2 separate regions of the Homo sapiens genome follow, and region 2 is linked to region 1. Evidence: fine-mapped expression QTL. A gene starts in region 1. The other region holds a variant in brackets. All regions are shown on one strand. Distances are from middle to middle.

Region 1 (12,116 bases):
GTTTAATGGCACAGAAAGAACTGTGACTGTCTCATGAAACTTCCTGCTTCCCTGTAAACAAAAGAGAACATGTGTGATTTTCAATTTAAATAAGATCTTCTCCACTTGTCTGCTCAGTGTTCCTAACCTCCACCCTCTTCTTCCTCATATCCCACTGAGGGAAGTAACTAGCCTAGGATTTATTTTTCTCAGAGCAACCAACTTGATACCATTGTTTCTTTTAATTGTAACCAAGGCTTAATCAAAAATTTTGGCTTTATAATGACCATTTCCACAGTTCCCACTTCACACCCTCCTTGTCCTTCACTGTACATTGTCGTTGTCCACCACCCCTACCCACCAGGAGTGGAATCTGTTTTGAGTACAGGGACCCACTTTTTTTTCCTTTTACCTCACTAGTCCTGGCACAGTGCTTAGCAAACACAAGTAGCTCAATAAATAAATACTTATTGATGGACATAAGGAAGAGAACTGGACACTGTGCAAAGCCTGTCTCAGTATGAAAAGCCAAAACTCCCAGCAGAGCAACTGATCTCAGTCACCTTTCCAGAGTTCTCCCTGGCCCAAGAGAGCCAATGTGAATCCCAGGACTCCCTGTGTTACAGGAATAAAGTAGCTCTGGCAAAAACAGGCTTTTGCAGCAAATGCTCTAAGAGATCAGGGAATAAGCACCATAGGGTTCCATCTAGGAAAAATATTAATTTTCCTTGAGGAGCAAAGTGCACATGAAGGGCTTCCTGTGCATGGGCCAGCTTGGGGCGAAATCAGTAACATTCTTAAAACATTCTAAAACACAATTTGTACTGGGTGCCTTCAGACTAAGCCAGCTTCTAACAATTCTAGCCAAAGTTTTTTTGTTTTTTTGTTTTTTAAATAATTTCTGTAGCTTCCAGATGACACTAACACTAACTTTGTCAAAAATAACTAATTGATATGTGTGTGGGGGGGAAGCACTCATCCCTCACCTTCCACAAAACATAAGATATTCAAAATTCACACTTTCTTCAGCTTGCCTAGTGTCAAATATTGCCCGTTGGATATATGTATCTATTAAAGTCCACATACTACCTTTAGCCTGTCTTAGACCCATAAAAAAGTCCTTTTTAACTGAGGAGACCAGAGAACAAACTATTGAGGCCAATAACTTATACTCTAACAAAGCAGTGACCACTGGACAATGAGTTCTGCGTATTTCTCAAAGTGAAATGAATGGCACTATTATCAATCCACAGATAAGAAATTAGAAGGGGAAAAGCTTTTCATTAATAACAAAGGTGGCTGGGTACGGCGGCTCACGCCTGTAATCCCAGCACTTTGGGAGGCCGAGGTGGGCAGATCACAAGGTCAAGAGATTGAGACCATCCTGGCCAACATGGTGAAACCCCGTCTCTACTAAAAATACAAAAATTAGCTGGGCATGGCGGTGCGCGCGCCTGTAGTCCCATCTACTCAGGAGGCTGAGGCAGGAGAATCATTTGAACCTGGGAAAAGGAGGTTGCAGCGAGCCAAGATGGTGCCACTGCTCTCCAGCCTGGCGACAAAGAGAGACTCTGTCTCAAAAAAAAAAAAAAAAAAAAAAAAAAGAGAAGAACTAAGGACCGCTCTTGTTATCTTGGTGGGGGAAAAACATAATCTGCAAAAAGTCTGAACTGGGCAGAGTGGCTCACACCTATAATCCCAACAGTTTGGGAGGCTGAAGTGGGAGAATCGCTTGAGCTCAGGAGTTGAGAGACCAGCCTAGGCAACACAGCAAGACTGTGTGTTTTTTTTTTTAAGGTATTAAAAGTCTGATTCAAATGAATATGGAAAACTCAGGAAAACAATGATTTTGTAACTAAATTAACATCTAGAACTTTTCTCTTTTATCCATAATTATTGGACTTATTTAAAACTAAAAAATTTTTTCGCCATGCACGGTGGCTCACGCCTGTAATCCCAACTTTGGGAGGCTAAGGCGGGCGGATCACAAGGTCAGGCATTCGAGACCAACCTGGCCAACATGGTGAAACCCCGTCTCTACTAAAATTACAAAAATTAGCCAGGTGAGGTGACCCACGCCTGTAGTCCCAGCTACTCAGGAGGCTGAGGCAGGAGAATCACTTTAACCTGGGAGGCAGAGGTTGCAGTGAGCCGAGATCGCGCCACTGCACTCCAGCCTGGGTGACAGAGAGAGACTCTGTCTCAAGAAAAAAAAAAAAAAAAAAGGAAAATTCATCTATTTAAGATAATCAGCAGCTATATTTAAAGGACCACAGTTAACCACAACAGAGACAAGAAACCTGCCATTAAAAAGTATAATTGGTGAAGCTGTATAATGGGTACAAGGTCATTACATTATTCTGCTTTTGTGTATGGTTTATAATTTCCATGTTATAAAACCATAATACATCAAAAAATAGATTTTCATGTAAACTTATGCCAAGTGAAAAATAAATGGCATGTATCCGCCTCTTCTGTTGCCTCATATCAAAGTCAGGGTCAAACCAGGGAACTTTCCCTTTCTAACCCATTCAATACATGCTCTTACCAGGTCCTTATGTGTACCCACTGGAAGATGCAAATGGGAAGAGCCAGCTTACTTACATAGAATGGTGCTGAAAATAACCCAGGCAAGATATTAGTACGTTTTCAATAGAAATTTTGGAACATTCTTGAGAATTGACCTCAAGACTGAAAAACTTAACTGCATGGAAGATTATTTCTTTGAGAGAATTTTTCTTGTGTTTTTAAGAGTCAGGGTCTTGTTCTGTTGCCCAGGATAGAGTGCAGCGGCCCAATCATGGCTCACTGCAGCCTTGAATTCCTGGGCTCAGGGAGTACCTCTTGCCTCACTCTCCAGAGTAGATGGGACTACAGGCACAAGCCACCATATCTCGTTGTTGTTTTTTTTTACATTTTTGTAGACTGGGTCTTGGTATGTTGCCCTGGCTGGTATTGAACTTCTGGTCTTAAGTAATCTTCCCATCTCAGGCTCCAGAGCAGCTGAGATTACAGTCAAGAGCCACCTTGCCCAGCTCTAGATAAATTTCTGTATAATGTTCCCTGGTACAATAAAAACAAATCCAACTGAGGGTATGTGCATGGGTCTATTATCAGTTTTCTAACTGGTTTGTCTAACGTCTTTACTCTTTTATTCCCTCTAGAAAGACTAAAGGTAACCAATACAATTTATTATACCAAAATGCCTGTGGACTTCTCATGACTGGAGTCAACCTACTTATAAAAGGAAGTAAAACTTAATTGGAATGGAGTTGAAACTAAATGTTAAAGTCATCTTTTCTACTTTGCTTTTGCACTGTCACGATGGAGGGGACTACACTTCTCCAGCTGCAGGTTGAGAATGTAAAGGAACCGGTATCAACACTGTCCTCATGAATACCGTAGCAAATGTACTTTTGATTTTTAAGTGTGGTTAGTCTGACACCCACCTTTGGCTTCCTGGGGAGTAAATTCCACAGGTTGATTCACCATTCTATTACACCTGCTTTTTATTTGCTCTTAAATCAAAGCCTTTAAAATTAAGCCTGGAGCTTCAAATTAACATAAAGAGGAATGGAGTGTAGTCTTTAAAGTTTCTGCAGGAGAAAAATTTTAGACCGGATAGACGCGTGTTCAAGCCTAGGACTGGTACAGCTTGAAACCACTGCCAGTTTGCTGAAAATGATTCCTCAGATGATCAAGGAAAATCCCAAAGCTCCTGATGACACCTCACCTGGTTGAACTCCTCGTCAGCATATATATCAATCAAGTCCACTCCTTCTGACATGGCTCCGGAAGGAAGATCGCGAGTCCGGAGGATGGACAAAGTAAGGAAGATGCCACTGCGGGATTCGGAAAAATGCAAGAATTAGAAGGCACGAGGGTCCTGGGCTGGGAAGAGGGTAATGATTGCTAACCTCCCATCTCCAGAGACGCAGCATCCTGGCGGCCCCAGCTCGGCCCCACCCGCTCCGCCCCGCCCCCGGCCTCGCGCCGCCCACCGCTCTCCCAGGCCGCCGGGGGTCGCTGCCCATCACCCTCGGGCCCGACCCGGGTAGCGCCGCGTCTGCGCCGCAGCTGCCTATGGCGCGACGGAAAAGTCCCACCCTCGGGTCCTAGTGGCCCTAGGACGGCGTTGCGAAGAATGACCGCGGCGAAGCCCGCAGCCCCTATCCGCTGCACCTGCCTAGCCCCCAAGGCGGCTCCGGCCAGAGCCCCCAGGTGTCAAGCAGCTCCAGCCGCCTCTGCCCCCAACCCAGGCCTACTCTTCGCCCCCAGCTAGGCCCGCCCCGCTCCCTCCCGACAAACCCGGCCCGGCGCGCTCTGCCTCCTCCCTCAAAAGGCCCGCGACTCCCTCCGCCCGCAGACTCCGGCCGTCCCATCTCAACCGACCCCCTTCCCGCCTCAGTGCCGGCCCGGACCCCTCTTCCGGCCCAACCTGCCCCCGACCGCGCGCCCCCGTTACCGGGAATATGGCGGCGGCGGCGGCGAGTCCGGACTAGGCCCGAAGCGCGCGAACCGCTCTCCGCCCCAGGTCCCGCCCCCCCCGCCGCCGGCGTCACACGCACCGCCACTTCCGGCATGCGCAGGGACGCACCTTCCGGCTCAGCTCCTCCGTGGCTGCCGTGGTCGGCTGGCCGGGCGGCTAGGAGTTCCCGGAAGTGCCCGCGCAGCCGGTTTCCGGTGCAGGTGGGGAAAATGGCGGTGTCTACAGTGTTCTCGACTTCGTCGCTGGTGAGGAGAGAGAACGTTCTAGCGTCCGGGGCGGGCGGCAGCGGGGATTACCCTTTGTCTTCCTCTGTGGTCTCTATCTTGGGGAGAGTTCGTCTGCCCGATAGCGCAGGGCAAGGGCAGGCCCAGGGAGAGGCCGATCCTGCAACTCAGGAAATAAAGGTCGCTTCCATTCTTTGGTGAGCCTACTGTGTGCCGGTCTGGAAATATCTGCTTAAACGATCAGTCATCGTCCAAGACCCAATTCGCCTCTCACCTACGTCCCAGGCGGGATTAGCCCAACTTCCCTGGGCTCCCCTTCTCCCCGTTCTTTAGTCTTTAATGCTTTTCGTGGTTTCACATAGTATCTTCAGCTTTTTGTTTGTTTATAATTGACATATAATTGTACGTGTTTATGGGGGTACAGTATAATGTTTTAATACATGTGTACATCGAATAATCAAATCAGCGTAGTTAGCATGTCCATCACCTCAAATCTTTATCATTTATTTACGGTAATAACTTTTCAAGATCTTTTTCTAGCATCTTGACATATACAGTACAGTGTTATTAGCTGTAGTCACTCTAATATGTAATAGAACACTGGAACTTATTATTCTTTTTTCCTAGCCTGCTGTTATAAAGTAACTAACTTTGCCTCTATCTTCCCCTCCTACCCCCATCCCTATCTTTATTCTTTTTTTTTTTTCCTGCAGACCCAGGGACTCGATCTTTATTCTTTTTTGATGTAGGCGTTTACACTATAAACTTCCTTCTTAGTACAGCTTTTGTCGCATCTCATAATTTTGTATATGTTGGGTTTTAGTTTGTCTCAGGATATTTCCTTTTTGTTTGTTTTTTGTTGTTTTCCTTTTTTTTTTTTGAGACGGAGTTTTGCTCTTGTCGCCCAGGCTGGAGTGCAATGGCACGAACTTGGCTCACTGCAACCTCCACCTACCGGGTTCAAGCGATTCTTCCGCCTCAGCCTCCCAGGTAGCTGGGATTACAGGCATCGCCATCATGCCTGGCTAATTTTTGTATTTTTGTAGAGATGGGGTTTCACCTTGTTGGCCAGGCAGGTCTCGAACTCCAGACTTAAGGTGATCCGTCCTTCTCGGCCTCCCAAAGTGCTGAGATTACAGGCGTGAGCCACCGCGCCCGGCCTGTTGTTTCCCTTCTTTTTTCTTTTTTTCGTAGAGACAGGTTCTCACTATGTTGCCCAGGCTGGTCTCAAACTCCTGGCCTCAAGTGATCCTCCTGCCTCAGCTTTCCAAAAAGTGCTGGGATTACTGGTGTGATCCACCATTCCCGGCGTGTCTCAAGATATTTTCTAATTTTCCTTTTGATGTCTTCTTTGACTCATTGATTGTTCAAGAGTGTGTTGTTTAATTTCCACATATTTGTGAATTTTCCACCTTTTCTTTTGCCATTGATTTCCAGATTTTAATAAAATGTCTCTTGTGCGGCATATAGTTGAATCTTTTTTTTAATTCATTATATTCAGCCACTTCATGTCTTTTGGTTGGGGAGGTTATGTTATGTTATGTTATTTTCTTGAGACAGAGTCTCGCTCTGTCGCCCAGGTTGGAGTGCAGTGGCATGATCTCGACTCACTGCAAGCTCCACCTCCTGGGTTCACGCCAATCTCCTGGTTTAGGAGTAGCTGGGACTACAGGCGCCCCCCACCACGCCTGGCTAATTTTTTGTATTTTTAGTAGAGACGAGATTTCACCGTGTTAGCCAGGATGGTCTCGATCTCCTGACCTCGTGATCTGCCCGCCTCAGCCTCCCAAAGTGCTGGGATTACAGGCGTGAGCCACCGCGCCAGGCCTGGAGTTTAATCCATTTATACCTAAAGTAAATAGTGGCCGAGGTGGGTGGATCGTGTGAGTCCTGGAGTTCGAGACCAGCCTGGGCAACATGGCAAAACCCCTTTTCTACTAAAAAAAATTAGTCAGGTGTGGTAGTACACACCTGTAGTCCCAGCTACTTGAGAGGCTGAGGCGGGAGTGCGTCTGAGAAGTCAAGGCTGCGGTGAGCCTTGATTTTGCAACAGCACTCCAGCCTGGGCATTGGAAGTGAGACCTTGTCTCAAAAAATAAATAAAATAGGGAAGTACAATCATCCCTTTGTATCCATGGGATGACTGTTGTAGGATCCGCTGTGGATATCAAACTCTGCAGAAGCTCAGTCTCTTATATAAAATGGCATAGTATTTGCATATAATCTACACACATACTTCCATATCCTTTAAATTATTTCTAGATTACTTATAATACCGAAAACAATGTCAAGGCTATGTATATGCTTGTTATACTATATCTTAGTTGTTTTTTAATTGTTGTATTATTTATTTCTTTTGAATATTTTTGATCCACAGTTGGTTGAGTGTGCAGTTGGTTGAATTTACAGGTGTGGAACCCACAGATACGGAGGGCCAACTGTGCTTGCTGTTGCCGTTTTGTAAACTGTTCTCTGTCTTACAACCTTTTTGCTCCTCTTTTCCACTCTTGTCATCCTTTATATTTCGTTGACTTTTTTTTTTTTGTAGTGACATACTTTGAGAAACGAATTTCTCATTTCCTTGTGTGTCTTACACAGGTATTTCTTTGTGGTTACCATGTGGCTTATATAAAACATAACAATCTGTTTTGATAACTTAATTTCCATTGCATACAAAAACTCTGCTCTTTTATGACCCCCTTGTATGTTGTGGATGTCACAAATTACATCTTTTTATATTGTCTCCATTAACAAATTTTTATAGTTGTTTTTATACCTTTGTCTTTAATTTCTATACCAAAATTAAAAGTGACTTACATACCACAGTTACAGTATTATAGTATTCTGTACTTGTCTCTCTCTATATATTTTTTTAATTTAATTTTTTTTTTTTTTTGAGACGGAGTCTCGCTCTGTTGCCAGGCTGGAGTGCAGTGGCGCGATCTTGGCTCACTGCAACCTCCATCTCCTGGGTTCAAGCGATTATCCTGCCTCAGCCTCCCGGGTAGCTGAGACTACAGGCGCCCGCCACCATGCCTGGCTAATGTTTTGTATTTTTAGTAGAGATGGGGTTTCACTGTGTTAGCCAGGATGGTCTCCATCTCCTGACCTCGTGATCCGCGCACCTCAGCCTCCCAAAGTGTTGGGATTACAGGCGTGAGCCACCGCACCCGGCCTCCAGTGATAATTTAACACAACTCATACCAGTATCACACAATTCCCTGGAACTATGTGACAACCATTATTGTTTCTTTTATGGAATGCTGCCTTGATACTAACAGAAAAAAATGGGTGAAATTTGGCTAAAATAATAAGACATCCCAATTATTAGAACAATTTCCTTGTACTGATGAGGATAGTCCTCCCCATCCGCATTCATTTCTGTAGAAATTACTCAATCATGTTATTTTAGTATAGAAAGTAGGAATCCCTGCCTTCAGTCTGCATCAGAATCTCTTAGAGGGTTGTTAAAAATTCATTCGTCAGGGCCCAGTCCTAGAGATTCTCATCCAGAATGTTTATGGTGGGGCTTGGGAATCTGAATTTTCATCGCATGCTGTATTAGTTTACTAGGGCTGCTATAACCTGTGTGGTTTGAAGAACAGAAATTAATTTTCTCATAGTCCTGGAGGCTAGAAGTCCAAGAGCAAGGTGTTGGCAGGTTTGGTTTCTTTCGAGGCCTCACTCCTTGCCTTGCAGATGGCCACCTTTTCACTGTGTCCTCACATTTCTCTGTGCATGCACATCCTTGGTGTCTCTTTTGTGACTTTTTAAAGACATAGGATCTTGCTTTGTTGCTCAGGTTGTACTTTAACTCTTGGGTTCAAGCAATCCTCCCACCTCGGCCTCCCAGGTAGCTGGGACTATAGGGTCATGCCACTGCACCCAGCTTTTTCTGACTTTTGACAGTTTGATTAAAATACGTCGCAGTATGGACTTCTTTGGGTTCATGTTAATTGAGATCTGTTAGGCTTGAATCTGGATGTCCACTTCTTTCCCCAACTTTGGGGGTTTTTAGCCATTATGTCTTTTTTTTTGAGATGGAGTCTCACTCTATCACTGAGACGAGTGCGATGGCACAATCTCAGCTCACTGCAACCTCTGCCTCCTGGGTTCAAGCAATTCTCCTGCCTCAGACTCCCCAGTAGCTGGGATTACAGGCACGCGCCACCATGCTTGGCTACTTTTTGTACTTTTAGTAGAGACGGTTTCGCCATGTTGGCCAGGCTGGTCTTGAACTCCTTACCTCAGGTGATCCGTTCACCTCAGCCTCCCAAAGTGCTGGGATTACAGGCATTAGCCACTGAGACCAGCCAATTATGTCTTCTAATAAGCTTTCTGCCCCTGTCTTTCTCTTATACGACTCTCATAATGTGTATATTGATCTCCTTGATGGAGTCCCTAAGGCTTTCTTCACTCCTTCTCATTCCTTTTTTTTTTTTTTTTTTTAGAAAAAACCCTGACTAATTTCAAATGACCAGTCTTTGAGTTTGCTGACTCTTTCTGCTGCTTGATCAGGTCTACTATTGATTTTCTCTAGTGAATTTTTTAATTTATTTTAATTTTTTAATTTTTTTTTTTTTTTTGAGACGGAGTCTCGCTCTGTTGCCCAGGCTGGAGTGCAGTGGCACGATCTCAGCTCACTGCAAGCTCCGCCACCTGGGTTCACGCCATTCTTCTGCCTCAGGCCTCCCAGGTAGCTGGGACTACAGGCGCCCGCCACTATGCCCGGCTAATGTTTTGTATTTTTAGTAGAGACGGGGTTTCACCATTGTTAGCCAGGGTGGTCTTGATCTCCTGACCTCTTGATCCACTCGCCTTGGCCTCCCAAAGTGCTGGGATTACAGGCATGAGCCACCACGCCGGGCCTAATTTTTTAATTTTTATGTATTTTTATTTTTTAGAGACGGGGTCTCACTGTGTTGCCCAGGCTGGTTCTCGAACTCCTGAGCTCAAGCGATCCTCCAGCCTCAGCCTCCCAAAGTGCTAAGATTATAGACATGAGCCACCGTGCCTGGCCTCCTCTAGTGAATTTTTCAATTCAGTTACTGTATTCTTCAGCTCCAAAATTTTCATTTGGTTATTTTTTAATGTTTTCTGTCTTTTTTTTGGTTTTCTCATTTTGTTCAAGCTCAATGTTCAAGTTCTCAATGTTCCAAAGCTCATTGAACATCTTTATTATGGCTAGTTTGAATTCTTTATAGGTGATTCATATACTTCTGTTTCTTTAAGGTTAGTTTCTGGAGATGTATTTCGTTCCTTTAATAGGACCATGTTTTCCTCTTTATTCATGTGCTTGGTAACTTGTACTGGTGATTTCTACATTTGAAAAATCATCTGTCTCTCCTGGTCTTTGTACTGGTGATTGGCCTTCACTAGTCAGCATGGATAGAGATTCCAAGGGCCTCTCAATCCTTTACTGAGGATGTGTCTTTTCTGGACTTGCGGATGTAAATTCCCATTTAGAGGGATTTGCCGGTTTCCTTTTTCAGGAGCCCATAATCTCTTGCTCCCTCTAGTGTCTGCGTATGATACTGCAGTTTCTCTGGAGCTGCTACAAGTCTCCCAGCTGTCGGTGGCCTCCAGACTTTTAGAGTATGCCATGTCCCATCAGTGCCCCAAGCTGGGCAAGACAGAAACCAGTCCCTCTGGTAGCTTCCCCAAAGGACAGAATGTTACGACTGGGTGTGGTGGCTCACGCCTGTAATCCCAGCACTTTGGGAGGCCAAGGTAGGCAGATCACCTGAGGTCGGGAGTTCGAGACCAGCCTGACCAACATAGAGAAACCCTGTCTCTACTAAAAATACAAAATCAGACGGGCGTGGTGGGGCATGCCTGTAATCCCAGCTACTCGGGAGGCTGAAGCAGGAGAATTGCTTGATCCTGGGAGGCGGAGGTTGTGGTGAGCCGAGATCGCGCCATTGCACTCTAGCCTGGGCAACAAGAGCGAAACTCCGTCTCAAAAAAAAAAAAAGTCAGAATATTAGATGCACACTCCACTCCCCTCAACCCTGGGAGAGGCCACTGGGCTGTATTGGCCTTTCTCTGCAGTTTCAGGGATCCTCTGGATCAGCAGCAGGCCACCCAGGCATTTAGAGTGTGCTAGATCCTTTCAAGTGCTTAGAGACAGAAACCAGTCCCCCAGAGAGCCCCAAAAAGCTAGAATGTTGGATGCATACTGCACCTGTTTCCCTCCCTAGGGAGAAGCTGGGAGGTGGGAGTTTTCTCCTGCTTGTTCTGCACTGAGCCAAGGATGAGTGATGAGGGAGTGAGTGCTTGCCAGTCTAAACTGTCACCTTTGTTCTCCATGGTTCTTTGTTCTCCCTCAACCTGCTGCCCTTTTCTGTTAGCACTTAGATTCAAACAAAACAGAAACCTGATCCCCCCAAAAGTCCGAACATTATACATACTTTTCAGTCTTCTCTTTCTGTCTCAGGTAGAAGCTAGGAGCTGGGGGTTATCTCATGATCATGCTTGAGCAGGGAGGGAAGAGACTATGGCAAATGAGTGCTACAAATTTTTCTGCTGGATTCGATGCAGCTGGTTTTGTGCTCACCTGGGGAGCAGGAGCCTCTTACTGGTTTCTGGATTTCTCACAGGGAATTGGTTTGTTTGTTGCTGTTGGCTCAGTGTCTCCATCGGGGAAGGAGGATCTGGGGTTTCCTACTCCACCATCTTCACCTCTTGCTGAGGTCACCACCTTGACATCATATCTTGATAAGTTGTCAACTTCTCTGGATTGGGAGCCTTTGGGGGATTAGGGATCATGCTGTCTCTGTGTGCTCAGGATTTGACACAGGTGAGTGAGTAGAGTATAAACCACACTGTAAGAATTTTAAGGGAGTGCAAAGGAAGGAAAAATTATTTCTGCTGGGATAGTTTCTGGAAAGGCACTGGTTAGGGACACATTTGCAGTTAGGACTGTGTTTTAATTCTAATTGCAGTTACTATTTGGATGATTTTGGGTGAGTTATTGAACCTTCCTGAGCCTCTGTTTCCTTGGCTATAAAGTGGGGACAATATCAGCATAATTTCTTTTCTTTTTTCAGGGGGATAGGGTCCGTTGCCCAGGCTGGAATGCAGTGGTACGATCACAGCTCACTGCAGCGTTGACCTTCCCAGGCTCAGATGATCTTCCCACTTCAGCCTCCTGAGTAGCTGGGACCACAGGCACCATGGTGGGACTACCCCACTATGCCTGGCTAATTTTTGTATTTTTGGTAGAGACAGGGTCTCGCTATGTTGCTCAGGCTGGTCTCGAACTCCTGAACTCAAGTAATCATGCTCGCGTTGACCTCCCAAAGTGCTGGGATTACAGGTGTGCGCCACCACGCCTGGCCAGCAGTGTAATTTCCTCATGACTAAATGTGATTGAATGCATTCAGCACCTAGTAAGCATTGAGTAAATGATAGCGATGATAGTC
Region 2 (16,506 bases), 320 kb before region 1:
AGATCACACACACATCAACATGGAGATCACACACACTCGTCAACATGGAGATCACATTCACACACATCAACATGGAGATCACACACACACATCAACATGGAGATCACACACACACGACATGGAGATCACACACACACATCAACATGGAGATCACTCACACACATCAACATGGAGATCACACACACATCAACATGGAGATCACATTCACACACATCAACATGGAGATCACACACACACAACATGGAGATTACACACACACATCAACATGGAGATCACACACACATCAACATGGAGATCACACACACACAACATGGAGATCACACACACACATCAACATGGAGATCACACACACATCAACATGGAGATCACACATACATCAACATGGAGATCACACACACACGACATGGAGATCACACACACACATCAACATGGAGATCACTCACACACATCAACATGGAGATCACACACACACATCAACATGGAGATCACATTCACACACATCAACATGGAGATCACACACACACAACATGGAGATTACACACACACATCAACATGGAGATTACACACACAACATGGAGATCACATTCACACATATCAACATGGAGATCACATTCACACACATAAACATGGAGATCACACACACACATCAACATGGAGATCACACACACATCAACATGGAGATCACACACACAACATGGAGATCACACACACACATCAACATGGAGATTACACACACATCAACATGGAGATCACATTCACACACATCAACATGGAGATCACAAACACACATCAACATGGAGATCACACACACACATCAACATGGAGATCACATTCACACACATCAACATGGAGATCACAAACACACATCAACATGGAGATCACACACACACATCAACATGGAGATTACACACACATCAACATGGAGATCACATTCACACACATCAACATGGAGATCACACACACATCAACATGGAGATCACACACACATCAACATGGAGATCACACACACACATCAACATGGAGATTACACACACATCAACATGGAGATCACATTCACACACATCAACATGGAGATCACACACACACATCAACATGGAGATCACACACACACATCAACATGGAGATTACACACACATCAACATGGAGATCACATTCGCACACATCAACATGGAGATCACACACACACAACATGGAGATCACACACACACATCAACATGGAGATTACACACACATCAACATGGAGATCACACACTCATCCACATGGAGATCACACACACACATCAACATGGAGATCACACACACATCAACATGGAGATCACATTCACACACATCAACATGGAGATCACAAACACACATCAACATGGAGATCACACACACACATCAACATGGAGATTACACACACATCAACATGGAGATCACATTCACACACATCAACATGGAGATCACACACACACATCAACATGGAGATCACACACACACGTCAACATGGAGATCACATTCACACACATCAACATGGAGATCACATTCACACACACAAACATGGAGATCACACACACATATATCAAATGGGGATTACACACACATCAACCCCAACATGGAGATCACACACACAACACAGAGATCACACAAGTCAACATGGAGATCATACACACACATCAACATGGAAATCACAAACACACAACATGGAAATCACACACACATATCAACATGGAGATCACACACACACATCAACATGGAGATCACACACACATCAACATGGCGATCACAATCACACACATCAACATGGAGATCACACACAACACAGAAATCACACACGTCAACATGGAGATTACACACACATCAACATGGAGTTCACACACACATCAACATGGAGATCACACACACTCAACATGGAGCTCACACATACACCTCAACATGGAGATCACACAACACAGAGATGACACACACAACACAGAGATCACACAAGTCAACATGGAGATCTCTCTCTCTCTACACACACACACACACACACACACACACACACACACACACACTGGCACAAGCCCAGCATTCATGGCGCAGCCATCTCTTGTACTTGCTAGCAAAACACCACCTGTGGAAAGTCAGCTCAAACTTCCAACCTCATCCCTCACAAAGGGGGAATGGAGGGTTTGGTTTTGGCTTTCACTGGAGTCTGCAACAAGAACTGGCATCATGCTGCCCATTTCCCGCCTCTCCCCACCCAGACCCCTGCCTCAGGGACGCCTGTCCTCAGCCCAGCCCTCAGCTGCAGCCAGGCCTTCAGCCTCCGTAACCCCCGCTCAGGGTCCCCACCCCCTGCAGCCCTGTCCCTCCAGGATGCATGGCCTTGTCCTGTGTGGGGGTGGCCGAGAGCACTGCCCCAGCCCTGGGTACCTTGGGCAGGAAGCTGGCAGAGGCCAGGGCTGCCATTCAAACAGGGGCAGGTGGTTTTGCCAGGAGGAAGTTGACAGTTCAACTTCAAACATGGGTGACGCAGGCCCCACACTGCCTGCTCCCCGTCCCACCCCTCCCTGAGCACGCCACCCCGCCCTCTCCCTCTCTGAGAGCGAGATACCCGGCCAGACACCCTCACCTGCGGTGCCCAGCTGCCCAGGCTGAGGCAAGAGAAGGCCAGAAACCATGCCCATGGGGTCTCTGCAACCGCTGGCCACCTTGTACCTGCTGGGGATGCTGGGTGAGTACCCCTCCCAGGTGTCCTGCGAACACCCGGGCTCGCTCCAGTGCAAGGAAGGAGTTCCCAGTTTTACCCAAGGCTGACTCTGGGATCCACATGTCAGCCCTCTGGAGCGTTGTGGAGATTTGGGGCCACTGGGATCCCTGCCTGCCCCCACTAAGCCGCAGCTTGGCCCTCTGTCCTGCATGTCCCACCCGCCAGGAGCACAACCTTGCCTCTCTCATGCGCTGTTGAGAACCCTGCTTTACCCTTCCAGTGCAAGAGAGACTGCAGGGGGGACCCGCATTTGATGGGGCCCAGACAACTTGATTCCTAGGCTGAGTTGGATTTTAGCAGAGCATTCAGGCCTCCCTCTGCGAGGTCCCCCACTGACAGCCCAGCCTTTACTTGGTCGCCTCCAGAGACATGGAAACTCGCCGTCTCCGAGGCAGCTCTGATGATGCTCTGGACAGACAGTGGGCCGAGGCAGGGTGGAGCCGCCTCTGAGGACGATGTCTGAGCAAATGTCAAGGACTCATAGCGGAAGTCCTAGGCCCTCTCATGCCCAGTCCTGGGTCAGTCCCAGAGGGGCCCAGCCAGGCCGGCTGGGATGAGTACACGCTGGGCCTGCTCTCACTCCAGCCCTGGGTTGTAAGCCCAACCCTGTGTGACCTCGGATAGGTCCCCAAGCCTCTCCAGGCCTTGATCTCCCCATTTATGAAATGTGGGGGTTGGGGGTGTGAACTGGATGAGGCCTGACCCACTTCCTGAGGATTTAGAAGGTCTGGCAGGGTGACAGAGGTGCGTGACTCTGGGCTGGAAACAGGAGGATGCGAGCAGCTTCCAGGCTGGCAGGGAGAGGGTCCGGAGGCCTTGCCTGCCTGAGCAGGGAGCCTCAGCAGCCTTCTAGGGAAACCGGGTGTGCAGGTGTGAGTGTGGGGGAATGCATGTGTGTGTGTCTGTGTGCATGTGTGTGAGAACTGTGTGTGGGGGAATGTGTGAGTCTATGTGTGTCTGTGTGAGTCTGTGTGTACGTGTGTGAGAACTGTGTTGGGGGGTAATGTGTGACTCTGTGTGTGAGTCTGTGTGTGAGTCTCTGGGCATGTGTGTGAGTACTGTGTGTAGGGGAATGTGTGAGTCTGTGTGTGAGTCTGTGTGTGAGTCTCTGGGCATGTGTGTGAGTACTGTCTGGGGGGGAATGTGTGAGTCTGTGTGTGAGTCTCTGGGCATGTGTGTGAGTACTGTGTGGGGGGGAATGTGTGAGTCTGTGTGTGAGTCTGTGTGTGAGTCTCTGGGCATGTGTGTGAGTACTGTGTGTGGGGGGGGAATGTGTGACTCTGTGTGTGAGTCTCTGGGCATGTGTGTGAGTATTTTGTGGGGGGGAAAGTGTGAGTCTGTGCGTGTGAGTCTGTGTGTGAGTCTGTGTTCATGTGTGTGAGAACTGTGTATGGGGGAATGTGTGAGTCTGTGTGTGAGTCTGTGTGTGAGTCTCTGGGCATGTGTGTGAGTACTGTGTGGGGGGAATGTGTGAGTCTGTGTGTGAGTCTGTGTGTGAGTCTGTGTGTGGGAGTCTGTGCGCATGTGTGTGAGAACTGTGTGTGTGTGCTTTCATGAGCACAATGCGGCCTCCAAAGGCAGGATTATCTCCCCAACACATGTGACAATGGCACCTGTGCACACATGTTCACATGGTTCTTCTCACATGTAACAACAACAGGTACAAAATGCCTTCTGTCCCAAAGTAAGAGGCCTGAGACAGACCTCTGGCTGGCTTCAGGGACCCTGCTAAGGAGGGACCAGGCCCTTAAACCCCCCACCTGCTCCTCACCTCTGGCCTCAGACTTCATTGAGATAGGGCGGCTCCCAGCTGAGTATGGGAACCCGTGTCCTGCTCTAGGGCCCTCCCAACTGAATCCCATCATGGGTGAGGCTCCTGATGGCACCAGGCAAGTCCCCTGGCCCAACACAGGCCACAGTCAGGAAGACTTGGAGGTAGCCCCTTCACCCCAGTATGGGGACCTCCTTGAACCCCAGGAATACTCAGTTCCCAGTGTCTGAGTGAGCCGGTGGGTACCAAGCATTCCCTTTGTTCAGTGGGTAACGGTTTACAAAGCACTTTTAAAGCCATTTTCTGCTGCAAGCTTCACAACAGCCAATGAAGTAGGTGGGCCCATTGGCCCCATTTTACAGTGGGGAAAAGCGAGGCCCAGGAAGGCCGAGTGCAAACCCAGGGTGCAGCAGCTGGTGCACAGCCGAGCTGACCCCAGCCCAGCATTCCTGCCTTCACAGAGGCCCCTCCCTTAGCTAAAAGGGAAGGCCACCAAAGGCACTTCCGTGTGCAGGAAAATGGCCCTGGGACACAACCTCCACCAGCAGAGATACAGCCACCAGAGCTGGGGACACCAAGGGCCAGGGTTGCTGGAGTCAAACAGTGCAGGCACCCTTTGAGCCATTCCAAGGAGAGAGGCAGCAATGCCAGAGCCCTGGGGACACCACAGCCTCCTGGCTGGCATCGGGGCTTGGGGACCTTTGGATCCTGAGGCATGAAGATGCCCCCAGCAGGCCTGGGTGCTAGTGACAGGCCAGGGCTTCCCACAGTTGCTCCCCTCTCAGCCCCAGCCTGCCTGGACAGCTGCTGGCAGTGAGGCGGGGAAGCGGCTCTAACACAAACTGCACGTCCCTGACTGGCCTAGCCGATGCGACTCTGAAAGCCAGCACTGGGACGTGGGAAAGTCATGGACTCTGCAGTTTGAATTCCAGTCTGCCACTTACCAACTGGGCGACCTTGGACTAGTTCTGTAAGCCTCAGTTTTCTCATCCGTAAACTGGGTGCAACAGTACCTCATAGAGGCTTATAAGGATTCAATGAATCAATGCACACAGAGCTTAAGTACAATCCTGGCATATAGTATAGTAAGTACTCAATAAACAATAATAACAGCAACAACTATGATTATTATTATTACCAGGGTCAGCAAGAAACAATGCGAGGTAGGAGCCAATGGGGAGGAGGGTCTTGCCAGAGGCCTGCACAGCCGTCAATCTCTCTACCCCTCAATCCTCTTGCACAGGCTATTTATTCACTAATTCATTCATTTTTCATCTACAAATATTATTGAGCATCTCCTGTGCATCCAGCTCTGTGCAAAACACTGGGGATACAGGGACCAAGGCAGGAGTCCCTGCCCTCAAGGATTTGATCAGCTAACAGGAGAGCTGTTAGAGAACACAAGTAAACAAGCACCAAAGACCGGGCATGGTGGCTCATGCCTGTAATCCCAGCACTTCGGGAGGCCAAGACGGGTGGATCACCTGAGGTCAGAAGTTCAAGACCAGCCTGGCCAACATGGTGAAACCTCATCTCTACTAAAAATACAAAAATTAGCCGGGAGTGGTGGCACGCACCTGTAATGCCAGCTACTCAGGAGGCTGAGGCAGGAGAACCGCTTGAACCTGGGAGGCGGAGGTTGCGGTGAGCCGAGATCGCGCCATTGCACTCCAGCCTGGGCAACAGAGCAAGACTCCATCTCAAAAAAAAAAAAAAAAAAAAGGCACCCGAAATATTTACACATTTTGAAATACTGAGTGCAATGAGGAGAACAGCAAGTTCCTCAGGCACAATACAGTCTGCACTAGGATAGGAGGACATCCCTTTGGCTGGGCAGGCAGGGAGGGCCTCTCTAAGGAGGCGAGGTCTCATCTGAGAATCCGAGACCTGAATGAGGGACGGAGCCAGCCAGGCAGAGAAAAAAGGGAAGAGGGTCCCAGGCAGAGCGGATGGCAGGGCAAAGGCAAGGGGGAAGGACAGGCCTGAGAGGGTGGGGCTCCTACTGGGAGCAGGGCAGCAGGCCCACTGTCCCAGGCTGGGCGAGGCCCTGGTTGGATCATCCTCCTCGAAGACCCAGAGCTCCCCACCTCCAGCAGGGAATGAAGGGACCTGGGGGCCCAGGAAGGGACCTGGCCTTCCTGGGTCACTCTGTCACCATCAGTTCAGAGGGGTTTTCCCTGCAGTGACCAGGCGGCGAATTCAGCTCAACCTGACAAAATTGATTGAACATCTATTCTGTGTGTGTGTGTGAAATTGAACATCTACTGTGTGTGTGTGTGTCCATGTGCTGTGTTTGCGTATGAACACATATGTGCACAGCCCTGTGGAGGGGAGCTTTGGAGCAATGCAGACCTAGTTTGATTTCTGCTTGGCCACCCACAAGTGAACATCTCTCAGGGTCTCATCTATAAAAATAGGGGTTCCTTGCTGTGTCCACCTCAAAAGATCACTGCAATAATTACATCGGGTTTATTCAGAGACTAGGTATGGATTGAACACCTACTATGTGCCAGATGCTGTTCTAAGTGCTGAGGACACAGCAGTGAACAAAAC[G/T]GTGGAAAATCCCTGCCCTGGTGGATCTGGCATAATAGTCAGGGTGTGATGGGGAGACAAACAAGACACAAGCTAAGCTAGTGATTATGCGAATACTAGACGGTCATGAGAGGTGTGGAGACAGACAGATAGAGGAGGGCTGGGACCGGAAGCCTTGGTGGGGTGTGAGGTACCTGGGGAGGATTCAGCGGCTCTCATGAGAAGATGATATTTGAGTCAATATTTGAAAGAAGGGAGTGAGCCCACCGTGTGGGACCTGAGGAGAAGCGTTGCAGGCAGAGGGGCCTCCAGCTGCAGGTCAGTGGGGGATCGATGAGGCAGCCACGAGGGCCACGGATGCCCCCGTGAGGACTTGGGCTTTTTCTCCCATGCACTGGACAGCCACACAGGAGCAGAGAGGTGAGCATAACTCTCACCTCTCCAGGTCCTCAAGTGCATCTTGAACCCCAGGCCAGATGCATTTGGAACTCCAGAAGCTTTCAGATTGTAGAAGGAAATACTGTGTACATACTGTGTGCTCTTAACACACGCAGTGAGGCCTGGGGCAGCACCCTGCGTTCAACACATTCCCATTTCTGCAGTGAAACATGAATTTGCACACTTAGAGGGATGTAAAGACAGCAAACACCCTCCCACCAAATGCATTAGAACAAGACTTTTAGATTCTGGATTTTGAATTGCAGATAAGAGACTGTGGGCCTGGATCACTTCTTCTATAGCTACCACTATCACCGTGACCAGCATCATCATCACCATCATGTACCTTTCAAGGCCTGACTTTCATGGTGTCCAGAGGGACCCTAATACTCCTCTCCGGGGGACAGATACGGTAGGAATAGCGTAGGAAATGGGTGGTGGCAGTCTGCAGAGACGACAAGGGTCCCATGCACTGCCACAGATTCCCACAGAGACATCTGGAATGAACCCCTCCCTCCTTCTGGCCCCAGTTTCCCCCATCTGTACTCCAGAGCAAGCAGGCTCTGGGGCCTCCCTGGGGTAGACTCCCACAGGCCCTGTCAGGTGATGGAGACAGGGTTTCTCTCCTGACTCTACCACCAGCTAGCTGTGTGACCTTGGGCAAGTCACTCAGCCTCTCTGAACCTCGGTTTCCTGATCTGAAAATGGAGGTGAGCATGGTCCCTTCTTCACAGGGCTGTGGGTAGAAAGAACAAGTCTAGTGCATGAGAGAGCTTTGGGGTAGGTAAAGCTCTAAACAAAACCAAAGCCTTGTCTCTGTGACAGCAGAGACACCGTATATGGTGCGAAACTCATGCAACAGCAGACTACTAGTGGGAGAGAGAAATAACAATTCAAACAGCAAAGGTCATTCTGCCCACGACCCACTGTCCGCTCACTGGGACAGGCCCTGGGTGAGCCAGATTAGAGACCTGAATCTGCTGTTCCTTCCTGCGGGCTCCATTCCCAGGCCTCTCCTGGTGTAAGCCCAGTGTGACTCTATATGTGTTTTGCACATAAAAGCCGCCTAATCATAAACCAATCATTTCATCTGTGCTCAACCCAAGAAAGGGAATTTTGGTCCTTTACGACCTTCGTTTCCCTAAAGCCCTGATACAGCTCCAACTCTACAGATGACTGTCGTTTCAGAAAAGAGGGGCTTCTGACCTTTCAAGTCAGCCAACATATAGGATTCGAGGAAGGAAAATCCAGAATCCTACCCAAAACACAGGCAGATCTATTGTATTTCATGGACATCGATGGCTGTAGCTATGGGGAGGTCTGTGGACTGTTAGAAGGAATCACTGTTTACGGGAAAAAGGGAACACCTGACTTGCAAACTACACTAAATCAGTCATAGGTGTTTTATCTGTGGAACAAAGTGGTGATAGCACCCCGTCTTCTGAGGCTCTAGAAAGAAATGGGGTCTTCTGTGAAAAATCCTTGTCCTGGGGTCTGCACAGGGTAAGGATGCTGTCATTTTATTATCATCGGTCATTATCACAGGCCTGTGAATCCGGGTGCCTGCCAAACCCTAAGCAGGCCACACCCTTGCCTCCATTTCCCAGGGTGCAGGGGCGGCAGGACCTAGGAGTGAGCCAGAGGCAGGGGCCAGGAGTGCAGGTTACAAAGCCAGCCGCCCTGGGCTGAATTCTGGCCCTGCCGAGTTCTCACTCCCATGCACCACGACAGCCTCCTCCTCTGTAAACTGGGACCCATCATGCAAGTCAACAAATATTCATCTGTAATTCCAAAGCCCAAAAAACATTTGTAAGTTTCTGGCAAATGCATTTGGTGCAAATCCTGACCTGAACGAATGGGAGGCTATTTATAATCTTGACACATCCCCCTTAGTGTGAAACTGCATATGTTTCGCTGCAGACACTGCCATGTGTTTGAAGCCAGGTCTCTCCACACACATGGCGACCGTAAGGTGCCAGCGAGGCGTGGACGAAACAGAAGTCAAGGGCCACCGCCACTGCCTGGGGCCTCCAGAGATGCAGCCAGTGGAGCCAGGATGTCCTATTTTTCAAAAACGCCTGGATCTTGAAATGTGTTTAAAAAGCAAAACAAAATTAAAAGAAACCTTTTTTTTTTTAATTTGGCTCAAAAAATTTTTAAACACTGTGCAGAGCAAATAAAACTCATGGGATGCCGTAATGAGAGCCAAAGTGAGAATTATCCTGAATACTGTGGGGGCAAGAGGAATGAGAGGGACAGGGAGGAGGATATCCTCACCAAGACCTCAGGGCAGGCAGGGCCAAAAATATTGTCTCTGCCAATGCAAAGACAAGAGACGGGAGCTCCAGGGGTGTGATAAGCCGTCTGACTTCTTTAGCCCTGAATTTTGCCTGGGTTTGCCCAGTCCAGGCCCTAAATTGTGGGAGCTGCAAGGGGAGGTGGGCAGGAGAAGGAAGGGGTCTTCAGAGAATTCTCATCCGTAGCCCCAGTTGCTCGGGGTGAGGGGTGGCTGGCGGATAAGGAAACGGCATAGCACTTCCAGGCCTCGGGGGCCTCCTGGTCTGGAGTCTCGGGGATTCTGTCCACAGTTTTGGCAATAGCAGGAGCCTCAGGCTTCATGAGGCTAGGAAGGATGGTGCAGGAGTAAGCTGTAGAGCCCCCAGAGGGGGTCAGGGAGACCCTGAACACAGACCGCAGGGCTCAGGGGATGGAGGGTGCTGGTCTGACCCCTGTGAGAAGCAACTAAAAAATAGAAATAGGTTATGGACCCTCAAAACCTCAATGTTCATTCTGCTCCCTAGATTATAAGTGAAAAACAAACAAGCAAATAAAAAAAAAACCTGAACATATTCATGGACAGGCTGAAAGAATATACACAACACACTCAGGAAGCTTCCAAGTCAGCTGTACATCTCACCGCCCTCCCTCCACCAGCTGCTGAAATCCATCAGGAGCTAAAGATTATAGATCACAGGTGTTTGAACCAGGGGGAAGGTGAGGGACTGTGGAATCTAACTTCCTTACTTTACAGATTAAGAAACTGAGCCCAGAGAGGCTGAGTGGCTTGCCAAGGTCACACAGCACTTCATAGCTAAGTCTTCTCACTGCATGTTTTACTGACTGAACGGAATCACAAGTTCATTCCCTTTGATCAGGATTGCACACCAGGGTGGTGCAGGAATCAATGAAACCTGGGGCAGGCCATCATGGGCTTCCTGCTGGAGGGAAGGGAGGCAGTTTGGGCCTCACTGGCAAAAGCTCAAGACTCAGTGCCAGGCGGCTAGGTTTGAGTTCGGGCCCCAGCACTCATTAGCTGCTTGGACAAGTCATTTAACCCCTCTCAAGTTTCCTGGTCTGTAAAATCGGGACCAAAATAATAGCACCTACTTCATAGCACTGTGGTGAGGACTGGGAGAGTTAATGTGTAAAAGGCCCGGAAGAGTGAAAACTTTTAAAGTGTTGGTGATGGTGACAGTGATGGTGATGATGATGGTGACGGTGATGGTGATGATGATGGTGACGGTGATAGAGATGGAAGGAGAGGAGAGGAACTGCTGCTCATCTGGGGACCAGACAGGCACCCAGAGGAAGGTTCCAGGGCGACACTCTAGAATGCATAAATATCTTTTTTATTAAAGCATTTGTTAGAGCATTTTTTAAAGAATTTCACTTGGTTCTCCAGCTTGTTCAGTCTTTCCTGAGAATGTTCTCTGAGCAAGACCTAGGCTGTTCTGTGTGGAATCTGCCAAGATTGTCAGGCCCAGTCCCTGTCCCCAGGCCTTCAGGGTCTGGCTGCACGAGCGCTTCCAGGTCAGACCCAGGTGGTGTTCATCTCTGCATCTCCAAAGCTGGCACTCTGGAGGAGCAATTGGGTGGCTGGGAGCAGAGAGCATGGGTTTTGGAGTCAGACACATGGTTCGACTCCACCTGCCAGCCATATTACCCGGGACAGGGCATTTGCCCTCTCCTGACATTTATACCAGGAACGTACTCAACTCTCGTGATGGGGCTGTGTGGAAGATTAACAACAATATCTGTGATGAACCATACCGTGGGCTAAGTATGCAGCAGGTGCTCAACAGTTGGCAGCTGCTGTTAATAATGAACGTTGAGTATGATGACTCGGGAAATAGAGATGCTCCTTGACCTACAGTGGGGTTGCCTCTCAATAAACCCATTGTAAGCTGAAAACATCCTAAGTCAAAAATTCATTTAATACCCCGACAAACCCATTGCAAACTTGAAAAGTCGTAAGTTGAACCACCCTAAGTCTGGACCATCTGCGCGAAGTTTCCAAGTTAGGAGAAGGAAGTGGTGAGCCCCATGGCTTGGCTCTCTGTGCTCCTGGACAGGGAATCTTCCCACTGGGAAAGCTCCCCGAGGGTCTGCTGCCCTGGGCACAGCTTCCCCCAGCCCACCCTACTCCACAGATCAGTAGCACCAGCTCTGAGCACTAGGCCAGGAAGCACTGGGCTAAGCCCTTTACACCGATTAGCTCATCTCATCTTCACAACGGCTCTAGAAAGCTAGTCCCATGCTCATCCTCATGCTATGAGTGAGGAAATCGTGGCTTGGAGGCACAGAGACAGGACAGACGTGCTCCCCAGACTCTATAGGCAGGAAGTGGCAGAGCTGATACTCAGAACTGGAGCAGTAGAAAGTCATCGGTGACTGAAAACCCATCCTGAGCTGTGTAGCACTGAAGGGCAGATATTTGGACTCCCACTCCCCACAGGTGGCACTTCAAGCTGCCTTAGCCCTCGAGACTTAGCCAGAGGGATGACTCCTTCAAGGCAGACTGCCCTGCTCCTGATGGGCAGCTGGGATGAGAGGGAGGTGGGAATGAGAGGTCAGGAGTGAGAGGTGAGGGCAGGACAAAAGGGCCTCCTTCCTGATTTCTCTCGCTAGCTGGACATCTCCCTGATGGCCTCCTGAGGCTGCCCTGCCCACTGCAATAGATCAGATGATTGGCTGGGCGCGGTGGCTCATGCTTGTAATCCCAGCACTTTGGGAGGCTGAGGGGGGTGGATCACCTGAGGTCAGGAGTTCAAGACCAGCCTGGCCAACATGGTGAAACCTCATCTCTACTAAAAGTACAAAAATTAGTCGGGCGTGGTGGTGCATGTCTGTAGTCCCAGCTACTCGGGAGGTTGAGGCAGGAGAATTGCTTGAACCAGGGAGGCAGTGGTTATAGTGAGCCAAGATCATGCCACTGCATTCCAGACTGGGCAAGAGAGGAAGACTCTGTTTCAAAAAAAAAAGAAAAAATTGATCAGACGATTGACAACTAGACCATCCTTTTCCACCCAGGCCAGAGCTCTGTACACTTCCCTGTTGGTGAGAATAACCTTCCCCTTCCAAGGCCCGTGACTCCTAGAGCAACAGCCACGAAAGGATCTTGCAGATTCAGGGGAAACTTATCACATGGCCATGATGACTTCATTACAAAGAGTCTTGATTCGGGGACAAGGATGAACTGTGGAGCACATCACCCCTTAAAATTCAACCGCCAGCTTGAGAACACTCAAGCAAGAACAGCTTTTTCAAAGCACACCTATTTTTTAAGAGACGGGGTCTTGCTATGTTGTCCAGGCTGGACTCGAACTCCTTGGCTCAAGTGATCTTCCTGCCTCAGCCTGCTGAGTAGCTGGGACTACGGCCTTGAGCCATTGGCCCAGCTAAACACACCTATTTTTTAACACCAAGCAAAAATTTCTCACAAACAATTTGAACACAGCCTTTCACTATTAATATATAAAGCAGTCTCCTTGACCCAGTGCCGTAAATCCAAGAGTAAACCCAAGTCGGACAGATGGAAATCAAAATACCGTACTTGCACCTAACTGATCACGCTAGGTGGTGAATACAGAGGTTAAGCTTTGAAGCCACGTGAGCTTGCTACTTCACCTCGTCCCCACCCAAATTAAACCTCTTCCCCAGCCACAGATGAGCTGCTCTGCTGAGAGCCCCGCAATGGGCAACTTTGCCCCCACTCCACAGTGAGACCAGGCTACAAGGAGGCAGAGCTTCCACGTGGTCCACATGGGGGAAGGCTGGTTCCCTGCAGACCCGTGTTCCCTGGGCCTGTCGCCTTGGCTCCCTTGTCAACTAGCTGGCTACACTACTGTGGGCAGGTCACGCCATCTCTTTGAGCTTGGTCTTCTCCAGAAATGGGCAGCTGTTAAAGATAAGTGGCTGTCATTCTTATCCTGCCTTGGGAATGCTAGAAAGTAGCAAATGTTCTCTTGGTTCCCTTTCTTGCTCATTTCTTTCTTTCCTTTTTTTTTTCTTGTAAAGACAGAATCTCACTCTCTCACCCAGTCTGGAGTATAGTGGTGCAATCTCAGCTCACTGCAGCCTCCACCTCCCAGGTTCAAGCAATTCTCCTGCCTCAGCCTCCAGAGGAGCTGGGATTACAGGCATGCATCACCACGCCGAGCTAATTTTTGTTATTTTTAGTAGAGACAGGGTTTCACCATATTGGCTAGGCCAGTCTCAAACTCCTGACCTCAAGTGATCCCCCCACCTCGGCCTCCCAAAGTGCTTGGATTATAGGCATGGGCCACCGTGCCCGGCCCCTTTCTGGATCATTTCTCCATTCTCTAGAACTAAGGAGCTCAAACTTTTTTGAGTGGAAACATGCGGGACATTTTTACATTGCAACCCCCAACACACAAAAAGTGATCAGTGCATTCTGACATTCTCTTTTTTATTTATTTAAAACAAAACAAACAAAAAAAAACAGGGTCTTACTCTGTCACCCAGCTAGAGTGCTGTGGCATAATCATAGCTCACTGCAGGGTCCAACTTCTGGGCTCAAGCGGTCCTCCCACCTTGGCCCCCTTAAGTGCTGGGATTGCAGTCATAAGCCACCGTGCACGGCCTCTCTATTCTACTCCATTTCATTTTTAAAAAAATTGATGGCCTGAGTGCTGTGGCTCACACATGTGAATCCCAGCACTTCAGGAAGCTGATGCACGAGGATCACTTGAGCCCAGGAGTTCAAAACCAGCCTGGACAACATAGTGAGACCCCATCTCTACATACACACACACATACATGCATACATACATACATACACACATACATAGTAAAAAAATTAGCCAGGCATAGTGGCTCATGCCTGTAATCCTAGCTACTCAAGAGGCTGAGGTGGGAGGATTCTTTGAGCCAGGGAGGTTGAGGCTGCAGTGAGCTGTGATCATGCCACTGCACTCCAGCCTGGGTGAGGAGAGTGATATCCTGTCTCAAAAAGTAATAATAATAATAATTGATGGTTACATTATTACAAAGGTTAGCATGAGGGAATTTGAGGTAGGGAGTAATGGAACTGGTGTATACCTTGATTGTGATGGTGGTCACACACATCTATATATGTGACATTCACGGAATCATGCAGTAAAGAAAAATCAATTTCACGTCTGTTCATTTTAAAAGTAACGTTTTTTAAGAAGAAAAAAAATCGATAGTTGCAGCCCACTAGATAGAATTCATATCACTCAGGGGTTCCAACCTGGAGTATGAAAATTCCTGTCCCTAAAACCCATGATAGTGGATAGGGGGAGGCAGAAAGGGCCATTGCTCGGGCTGTGGGTGGGTGAGCTGGGGAGAAGGGAGAGAGTGGGAGGTTTCACTTCCTGACCCTCCTCTCTTCTTTCTGCAGTCGCTTCCTGCCTCGGACGGCTCAGCTGGTATGACCCAGGTAAGGAAGAGCCACATGGAGAAAGGCCTGGGGCAGGGGGAGAGTGGGGCTGTGGTTTCATCAGGCCATCGGGGACCTCTCGATGAAGCCATCACTTCTGCCAGAGTGAACCCCACCCTATAGAGAGAGTGAACCCCAGCATACACACAGGCACATAGATGCAGACACTGCACATTAAGATGCTCACATGCAGGTGGGTGCCCTCGACAGCCGTAAATCACCCACAAATGCCAGATCTCATGATAATTATTATGACCCGCTCACCATGCACAGAAGACATCCCAGCTCATAAATGTACCTTGCAAAGTCTTATTTCCCACCCAATCCTGACAGATGCTCCATGGTCAAAGATGTTTAGAGCGGAGTCTGCAGAGAGAGGCCGCAGACTGATGGTAAAGTGTGTGGAACGTCCAGCCTTAGACGTTGGAGTTTAGTCGTAGAGGCTGTTTCCCAAATAGGGTTCCATGGAGCATGTTGGACAAAGGGCAGGCAACACCGCATCTCCCACTGAAGACTGACAGTGTACACCGGCCCAGTAAAGGATCTGAGAAATCCTGCAGCGAAGAAATACATGACACTTTTTAACCCAGCACTTTGCACCCTTATTTCACCACAGACCTCTCCTTCACATTGACTGGGATAACATCGTGCTGAATGTACCTGGGGAGAATTGTGGCTGAAGGGTCTTGAGATGCCACTGTGCAGCCAGAGGGGGTGACAGGGGCCTTGGCAGGCCCTAAGCACGATCTGGGCCCTGCACTGACATCCTAGCTCCAAGCTTTGGCACACTGCTTGACCTCTTGAGCCCGTTTCCCCAGCTGTGAAATGGGAAGAAAATCTCTTGCCTGGTGAAGCGGCAACGAGCCAGCTCGCTGGGCGGACAGCCTGCAAATCACCCCACCAATGTTAGGTGTTGAGACGCGCTCGTTCTCCCTCTAACCAGCCAAGTGCCCTTGGCGAGCCCTGGCCCTGAGCTTTGGCCCCAGAGTGTCCTCGTCGGAAGAAAAGGGTAGCCTGACCCGTGGTTCCCGACCAGGGAAAACCTCCCCCTCAGAATCACCTGGGAGAGCCTTTCACATTTCTAAAAATTTCTTGAATCAGTGACACATTCATCCAGCTCAAAAATTTAAAAAAATATAAAAAGATCTGTAGTGAAGAGTCTCACTTCCATCTCTATTCCCGTCTATCCCAGTCGCCCCCGACGTCGACCCCAACACCCCAGGTAATGACTACGTTTATTTGTTTCTTGCATATTCTTCAAGGAGCTCTTTATGCAAATACACACACACACACCCCACACAGACCCCACACACACACCACACATACACACAA

Evidence for each region. PIP is the estimated chance that this variant, and not a neighbour inherited with it, causes the effect.
Region 2: its variant is fine-mapped to the expression of SDHAF2 in whole blood (INTERVAL, PIP above 0.99).

Annotation. Positions count from the first base shown.
Region 1 is chr11:61,425,470-61,437,585 of GRCh38, forward strand. SDHAF2 (succinate dehydrogenase complex assembly factor 2) reads left to right here and starts at 4,655. Exons shown (of 4, transcript NM_017841.4): 1 at 4,655-4,713. The coding sequence starts at 4,678. It overlaps CPSF7 (cleavage and polyadenylation specific factor 7), which reads right to left and starts at 4,506. Exons shown (of 10, transcript NM_001142565.3): 1 at 4,445-4,506; 2 at 3,713-3,821. The coding sequence starts at 3,766. RefSeq lists enhancers at 3,721-4,369, 4,726-4,785 and silencers at 3,876-4,305, 4,416-4,585, 4,444-4,779.
Region 2 is chr11:61,099,921-61,116,426 of GRCh38, forward strand. It overlaps CD5 (CD5 molecule), which reads left to right and starts at 2,569. Exons shown (of 11, transcript NM_014207.4): 1 at 2,569-2,695; 2 at 15,136-15,174. The coding sequence starts at 2,641. The variant G/T (reference allele first, on the strand shown) is at 7,056.